2 separate regions of the Homo sapiens genome follow, and region 2 is reported to be linked to region 1. The links are microRNA targets in miRTarBase. Many come from high-throughput screens and were not tested one by one. Region 1 holds a microRNA gene; the other region holds the end of a gene's coding sequence.

What was found. Region 1 holds the annotated microRNA hsa-miR-3612 (AGGAGGCAUCUUGAGAAAUGGA, at 2,425-2,446, shown strand). A microRNA usually pairs through its seed, bases 2 to 8, with sites in the 3' UTR of a target mRNA and lowers its output. Matches are read on the target gene's strand: a 7mer-m8 pairs with bases 2 to 8, a 7mer-A1 pairs with bases 2 to 7 and ends in A, and an 8mer does both.
Region 2: the mRNA of ZYG11A is a reported target of hsa-miR-3612. Seed matches in the 3' UTR shown: 7mer-m8 at 1,323-1,329.

Annotation. Positions count from the first base shown.
Region 1 is chr12:128,291,681-128,296,045 of GRCh38, forward strand. MIR3612 (microRNA 3612) reads left to right here and starts at 2,412; the gene lies at 2,412-2,498. All of the region lies in intron 1 of TMEM132C (transmembrane protein 132C), which reads left to right.
Region 2 is chr1:52,892,575-52,896,574 of GRCh38, forward strand. It overlaps ZYG11A (zyg-11 family member A, cell cycle regulator), which reads left to right. Exons shown (of 14, transcript NM_001004339.3): 14 at 208-2,424. The coding sequence ends at 383. ECHDC2 (enoyl-CoA hydratase domain containing 2) reads right to left here. Exons shown (of 10, transcript NM_001198961.2): 10 at 3,336-4,000. The coding sequence ends at 3,946. Among named protein-coding and RNA genes, the nearest start is that of ECHDC2, 27 kb to the right of the region's middle.

The DNA.
Region 1 (4,365 bases):
GTGCCTGCCTTTCCTTCCTCAGATCCATCCTGTTTCCCCTGCTCACTTCTGGATTATAGGGAACTGCACCTCCCAGGTTCCCTTGTTTTCTGGCTTCTGGACACATTCTAGTCCTGTCTGAGGCAGTGGCAGAAGACAGGAGGGAGATTGAAGTGGGGAAAGCCACAGTGCTTTTCTCCTTTTCTTGCTTTTCTTCCTGGACTGCCTGCAGTGATGGCCAGGGCGTCTCAGGAACCCCGGCTGACCGGAGGCAGCTTCTGCGCACTGTGTCCTGGTTTGCACCCTGCCCCACGGGTGGCCTTGGCCCCTGGAAACCCCCTGGGACCCATTGTTCCTCCTCCCCTAGGGCTGCGGGGTGCCCTCCTGTCGCTGGTATCTAGGTGTCTCACCATCCGTCTCTGCTTCATAACTCTTGCCTCACTACGTAATCAATTCCTATGTTTAAGCCCTTCTGTTCCAGTAACTACAGCATTTTGTTTTGTTTTGTTTTTCTGGCTGAATTCTGACAAAATATCACTTTTTTCTTATGCACATTCAAGTTTGCTTTCTGTTTCTTGCAGTCAAAAGAATCGTGGTCAAACAGAATGAAAGGCAAAACTTAGAGGAAAGCCTTGGAAACAAAGCCGGCCTCCCTGAGATTCCTGCTGTGTACAAGGGAGACAGGCCCACACTTCCCCACCTGAACCTGTTTTTGACAATCCCTGCCCAACTTCCTCACCCAGCAGTTGTAAGAAATGGGTTTGTCAATGGTTTTTTCTAACTTGTTCCAGTAGAATGTAAGCTCCTCGTGGGCATAGATTTTGTCTCTGTTGCCAGTACTGAAACCCTGGTACCTAGATGAGTGCTGGGCACACAGCAGGTACTTTGTAAATATCTATTAAGTGTACTTAGTACCTAGGTACCCTAGTACCTAGATGAGGTATTCATAAGTGTCTGTTAAGTGTACTTAGTACCTAGGTACCTAAGTTCCTAGATGAGGTATTCATAAGTGTCTGTTAAGTGTACTTAGTACCTAGGTACCTAAATTCCTAGATGAGGTACTTCATAAGTGTACTTAGTACCTAGGTACCCTAGTACCTAGATGAGGCACTTCATAAGTGTCTGTTAAGTGTACAATAAGAACTGTGGATCATGACACAGTGGAATTAACTTGATAGACTGTTGCTGTCAGCAGTTTTCTTTCATAAACAGAATAGCATAGAAATTCTATTCCTAATAGAGCACATTTCACATGGTAGGTCTGTGTTTTCTGTGTGTTGGTGTAGGTATGTGTATGTGTGTGTGTGTATATGCAAGCACGAGCACCAACTTGTGTTGTAAAATGTGATTCTTACAGTAGACCTTGATTTTCAAAAAATTTGAAAGCCGGACAGCAAGATAATAGTTCAGCTTTTTGTGAACGGTAAGGAGTGTGCAAATCTGAACCTGTAGTGTCTCCTGGATTGCTGTCAGTGAGGACAGAGGATCCTCTTTAAAAACTGGGTCCAAACTCCCTCTGGTCTCATTTTGCACCTCTCCACAGTATAAACTCTCCTTTCCAACCATTCCAAATAACTTAATTCCCTAATCTCAGGGGGCCGTTTCATTGCAGAAATTGCTGCTTGTTCACAAACTTAGTAAGGTACTTAAAAAAGATTTTGTCATGGTTAATAAAAGTCACAGGGTAAATTGGTCTTATTTCTTCTTTTTAGTGCAAAATGTAATCCCTTCACCCTGATTGTTTTGCTTAGTTGTACACACCACCCATCGGGAGGCCAGAAAACTTGTATTTATTTCTAGAGCTACCTCCTTACAGAATTTCAAAGAACCTCGGGGCACTTGAGAATTGGTGTCCAGACAGGATGAATCATTTCTTCTTCAATCAGGATTTTTTATTTTATTTTATTTTGCTGGGGGATAAAGATAAAGATGATTGAACTTGTTTTATTTAGGGGAAAAACAGCCTCTCTTTGAACTCTTGATCTCCACTTCTCAGGAGTGGAGCCCATTTGTAAACTCTCAGGTCTCTCATTGCCTTCTTTGTCTCCCAACCTCCTAAGGTCGAGAGTGATTCTTTATGGCAAAGAGTGAGCATTCTGGAGACTGCACAGCCTCCTCTGAACAAACTGGAGCATATATTTCCCGCATCGTCTCTGTCACCTCCCTGGGTTTTATTTTAATTGCCATGCTTTTCAAAAGCACAATTCCTATTAAATTATTCATGGTGGTATAATGTTTATGTGATCAGAGTAATTATTATAATTACGCATTGTGAATTTTCATAATTAATGACCTCACTCGGATTTCATTTGGTGCAGAATATTTCCGAAGGGGAATCAGGTGGTTGTGTCTGCTGGGGGAATCAGAATGGAATAAAATGGTGACCTATCTTGGGTTTTGCAGAGCAGTAGAAACTTCAGTCATTCACTTTGGGGACTGGGGATGAGGAGGCATCTTGAGAAATGGAAGGAATGGGATCTACTTCCAGTTCACTAGAGGCGTCCTGACACCCCTAGCTCAGCATCTTCCTCTGTGAACCGCCCATGGGAAGGTGTCCAAAGGTGTCCTAGTAGAACAAGCCTAGCAGACCAACAGGAGCAAGGAGACCAGACACGCGTCTCACTTTTGGGGCTTTTGAATGAGACTGGGGCTTACCAAATCTGCAGAAACCAGCCAACAATGCTCAACAGCAGCAAAACCACACTTCAGTGACTCACACAGCAAGGTGGCCCTAACAGGACTCAGGCTTCAGCTGACTTCCTCTCCCTCTCTAATTCTGGAAAGAGTAGAAAATGCAAGCCATTGGAGAAATGGCTGGTGGCACTCTGAGCATGGGAAGAAATTTGATATTTTATGATTGGCACCTGTCTTAGTCTGTTCTAGTTGCTCTAACAAAATACCAGAGACTGGGAAGCATCTAAACAACAGGAATTTGTTTCTTGCAGTTCCAGAGCCCAGAGATCCAAGATCAGGACACCAGCAGATTCACTATCTGGTGAGAGCCGGCTTCCTGGTTCATAGACAGGGCTTCTCCCTATGTCCTCTCACAGTGGAGGGGAGAGGAATCTCCCTAGACCCTTTTATAAGGGCCCTAATCCCATTCATGAGGCTCCACCCCCGTGACCTCATCACCTCCCAAAGGTACCACCTCCTAAGACCTCCATTCTGAAGAGGAGGATTTCAACACATGAATTTTCAAGGAACAAAGACGTTTAGAACACAGCCATTTTGTAGTCAGATTTCAAATATTTTAATGCCTCCATTTTCCTCATCTTTGACTTGTATCTGAGGAACCAATGCTTGGTGTGAGCCCTAAATAAATAAATAATAGATAGATAGATAGGTAGATAGATAAGAAGTTCAAGCTTCTTTGTCCCCCAGCAAAAAAAAAAAATTAAAAAATTGAGAAAGAAATGATTTATCCTGTTTCATCCTGTTTTGTATACAAATAGATGCCAGTACTCAAGTGCCCCAAGGTTCTTTGAAATTCTGTATGGAGCTAGCTCTAGAAATAAATTTATATTATGTTTGAGACAGGGTCTTGCTCTGTTGCCCAGGCTGGAGTGCAGTGGCACAATCACAACTCACCGCAGCCTCGAACTCCTGGCCTCAAGCAGTCCTCCTGCCTCAGTCTCCCAAAGTTATGGGATTACAAGTGTGAGTCAACACACCCAGTCCCAAAATAAATATTTGGTATAGCTATAGCTATTCACTAAGACCTTTCATCAGCATCATTCCCTCTCAGCCTCAGACCTACTTGAGGGGAAGGCAGTTCCATCCCCATTTTACAGATGAGAAAACTGAGACGTGTAGGGTCACATGGAAAATAAATAATGACCGCCTTGAAACTGTGATGTCCAGGGCGTCCTGTCTGTAACAGCCTGCTACCTTCCACCCCCTCCCCTGGGTATGCTTTCATTCCTTACCCGACTTCTTAGACTTGCCCTCCAATGTTACTGATGTGCCTTTTAAGTCCTTCAAAAAAAAAAAAAAAAAGAAAGAAAAAAGGGTGGGGTACAACCTGAAGAAAGAAGAAAAATAAGAGCCCCACATAAAATTCTGCTCAGTGATCAGAGACCAGTCCAGTCATAGATTTCAGTTTTAAGCACCAATTAAAAAAAAAAAACCTTAAAAATTTCTCCTATTTCCTTCTTGATCCTTGTAGAATATTGTACTTTTCAGACCATATTTAGTTGTACATTCCTCTGTCTTTCTCTCTGCTCTGTCATTTCTTGAAGACATGGGCCTTTCCTTATTACCTTCCATATCTTCAGGTTGTAATGGGATATTCAACACATAATAAGCAGTGAAATGCATCTTGCAAGAATGAGTGAACATTGGTTTTCTCTGTACCTCCCCTTGCCTCCCTTTCTTCCTAGTGTCCAA
Region 2 (4,000 bases), not on the chromosome of region 1:
TAAACATACTAAAATGAGCATCTGTTACCTCATACAAGCCAAGCAAGTTTTGAAGAACTGCTTTAGAATTGACTCATTTTATCTGTTAATTCCTAGGCCAAAGAGCTTAAACCTTTGTATTGTTTCTTCAGCAAGGTGAATGTGGTGACATGGGAGTATTTAAAATGCCAGTTGTCCATGGAGTGTCTCTGCTTGATTTTCTTTCAGCCAGCAAATACTGCAAAATGTTAGTTGAAGAAGAAGGATTGCAGCTTTTGTGTGATATCCAGGAGCACAGTGAGGCAACCCCCAAAGCACAGCAGATTGCAGCCTCCATTCTGGATGACTTCAGAATGCATTTCATGAATTATCAGAGGCCCACTCTGTGTCAAATGCCCTTCTGAACCTAAGGAATTTCAGAGGTGTGTGCTCTTCCTCAATGTCAGGTGTTCTGCCCTGGCAGTAATTGCACATCAGTTGTCATTGGAGTTTGTGAGTTGGCTGTCTCATTGGCCTTTGATTGTTGATTTTATATATGTTACAAAAGGTTGGATTTGTATGATAGCTGTAATCCCAAGTCAAGTTGGACTCATTCTGCAGCCTTTCAGCAGCAATTTTGAAGACTCAAACCGTGGACTCTGGGAAGGCCTGGGAGCTTGTGTTGGAACAGCTATGCAAGTTACTTTTCTCTAGCCTTGGACAATTTTTTCCCTTTGGGAGCTTGTCATGGGAGTGGGACCTGTTCACTAGAAGAGAAAGGAAACCTACAGGGAGACTTTGATATTTATATTAAATTTCCTTTGTTGTTATCGTCATGTGAAGCTATGAGAAAAGCTTGGGAAGCATATGCTTCAAAATGTAGTGTTTAGAAGGCAGAACCCCTGTTGGAGAGCGGGGAAAAGAATTTATTTATTTATTTATTTATCTATGGCTGGGTATGGTGGCTCACGCCTGTAATCCCAGCACTTTGGGAGGCCAAGGCAGGTGGATTGTCTGAACTCAGGAGTTCGAGATCAGCCTTGCCAACGTGGTAAAACTCCGTCTCTACCAAAAAATACAAAAATTAGCTGAGCGTGGTGGTGTGCACCTTTACTCCTAGCTACTTGGAGGCTGAGGTGGGAGGACCACTTGAGCCCAGGAGGCAGAGGTTGCAGTGAGCTGAGATTGCACCACTGCACTCCAGCCTGGATGACAGAGTGAGACCTCATCTCAAATGAATAGAGGGGTGGAGAAAAGAGAAATATATTTTTTTACCTTTTTTTTTTTTTTTTTTTTTGTGACGGAATCTCGCTCTGTCGCCCAGGCTGGAGTGCAGTGGCACAATCTCGGCTCACTGCAACCTCTGCCTCCCAGGTTCCAGCAATTCTCCTGCCTCAGCCTCCTGAGTAGCTGGGACTACAGGCACATGCCGCCACGCCCGGCTAATTTTTGTATTTTTTAGTAGAGACAGGGTTTCACCATATTGGTCAGGCTGGTCTCGACCTCCTGACCTCGTGATCCACCCGTCTCGGCCTCCCAAAGTGCTGGGATTACAGGTGTGAGTCACTGCACCTGGCCTTTTTACAATTTTGGGTGTCTATCTTTGGCATGTTTCCTGTTATGTGAGCATGACATGCTGTGTATGTGAGTGAGCTTGTAGGGCGTGGTGGGACTTAGGCATTTGCAGACAGTGTTTAGATGAAAGATTACATGTAATGATAAATCTGAATCCCTCCATTTTATTTGGGTGGAACCATGACCAAAAATGGTAGGAAGACGAAAGGCCAGAAAGAGACTTTGCCAGAGAGTTCACGGAGTTTTCTTACCCCGCATGCTGACTAAAGAAAACATGGGCTTTTCTGAAACCAGCTTCAACTACAGTATAAACTATATCAGAAGCTTACTTGATAAGCCTTGCGGAGCTGCTCTGAGGAATAGTGTGAATTCCTTCCTTGCCTTATTGTTGACTGTTAATGAACATGTTTTGTCATTTATCTGTTTAAGTTTTTCAGAAAATAAAAGTAAATTTCTGTTAGCACATTTTAGGATTAGATTTTTGTGCTTTTGGCTGGCTTGGTTCAGATTCTTAACTAGAGTACCATGTACTGTCTTTGGAAATCAAATGAGGAAGAAGCTCATTCTCTTACTCTAAACCATGTTCCAAACTATTACCAGAGTCCAACCAGATAAGCAGAATTTGTAACCTTACTTCCTTCCATAGTCCTTAAACTGTACTGTATTTTTTCACACTCTTGCATGATTCCAAAAGGATATCTTCCTGACCTGGGTTCTAGTACCTCAGAGCATTGTTATCAGATGCTAGCTTATTCTAATGTGAGGATGTGTTAGGGGAACTAGTGTGTTAAGTCCAATTCTGTACAAGACATCCTTTCAAGTTCTGTGTCATTCACAACAATCCTCACGGGTAGGTGAGTTTTATTTTCCTCACTTAACAGATGAGAAAAAGGAAGTTCAGTAAGGTGGTTACTTTCCTGGGTTGTCATAGCTGGTGTGGTTTGTGCTGACTGTAAAGGCCTGGGCTCTCCTGTGTTATTCTTCCTTCCAGGATGCAAGCATAACCCTGGGAGCACATTTGTATTTTGCAGAAATCCGCAATGTTATTTATATTGTATCCATGCCCATGGTTTAGTGACTCTAGGCCAGGCTGAGGCTCAGCTTAGCCAGCGCTCAGATCCAGTTGGAGAATGACTGCAAAGGCATAGCTTAAGATGTAGCCTTGGTACCAGAGGAGGGAGGGGTATTGGGACCAGTATGGTTATGTATCAGCCTGCTCTTGGTTTTCTAAGTGTATCATCCTCTTCCTCACCTTTGCTCATGCTGTGTCAAGCTTCCTCTTCTGTACTTGAAATGTTCCTTAATCCTTCAGGCTTCAATTCCAATGTTAGTTGCCCATTTCCGGATCCTCCCTTCTTTCCATTAGAGTTAATTGCCCCTTTCTTCTCAGTGCTCCTAAATGCTATCAAAGAGTCTCCTGGAGGCTAGGTGTAGTGGCATACACCTGTAATCCCAGCACTTTGGGAGGCCCAGGCGGGCGGATTGCTTGAGCCCAATAGTTCAAGACCAGCCTGGGTGATATGGCGAAATCCTGTCTCTACAAAAAAATACAAAAATTAGCTGGGCATGGTGGCATTTGCCTGTAGTCCCAGCTACTCCAGAGGCTGAGGTGGGAGGATCACTTGAGCCTGGGAAGTGGAGGCTGCAGTGACCTGAGATGGCGCCACTGCACTCTAGCCTGGAGCCTGGGTGGCAGAGTGAGACCCTGTCTCAAAAAATAAAAAGAATTTTCTGCCACCCTGTAGTTTACAAAAGTGTTTCACAGTGATGATTTCGTTTGGTCCTCACGAAAACACTGTAAGTTAACAATTAAAACATATTTATTGAATATGAAGTGTTTTTATTTTGCTAAATCTTCACAAGTTTTGTTTTGTAGGTGAGGAAGCTGAGGCCCAGAGCATTTAAACAATTTGTCCACGGTTATACAGCAAGTAACTGGCAGAGACTGGGATCTGCAGTCTGACCCCTGACACATGTTCAACCGATGTCAGAGTTTATTTATTACCTCTGTTGTTCACAGGAAGAAACTAGGGGTATCTTAAAATCTTCTGACATCTCTAATGAGTGCCTGATAACTGAGAGAGGTCAGGGGCTGAGAGCCAATGATACCAAGACTCAGAGAGATCTAATTTAATTCTTTATCATTCAAGTAGAGAGACAGGCATTTTCCAAAGCAAACCCAACCCTCGTGATTATTTCTAGCCAGGGTGAAGCTAAGGAAGGTAGCAGTAGGTGGTAGGATCAGCACCTTGGTTCCAGGCATCACGCCAGTCATTTTATTTCCATCATCATCCTTGTGAAGAAATGGAAGTCTGGAGAGGTGAAATGATGAAGGCAATCTGGCCACAAATCTTCCTTCTGGATCCTGCTCTTCAGGGCATGCATCTCCCATGCTGAAGGTTAAAATGGGGGTCATTTGCCAACAAATTTGGGAGTCCGCTTCTCCCTGAAGGCTGCCATGCCCTCT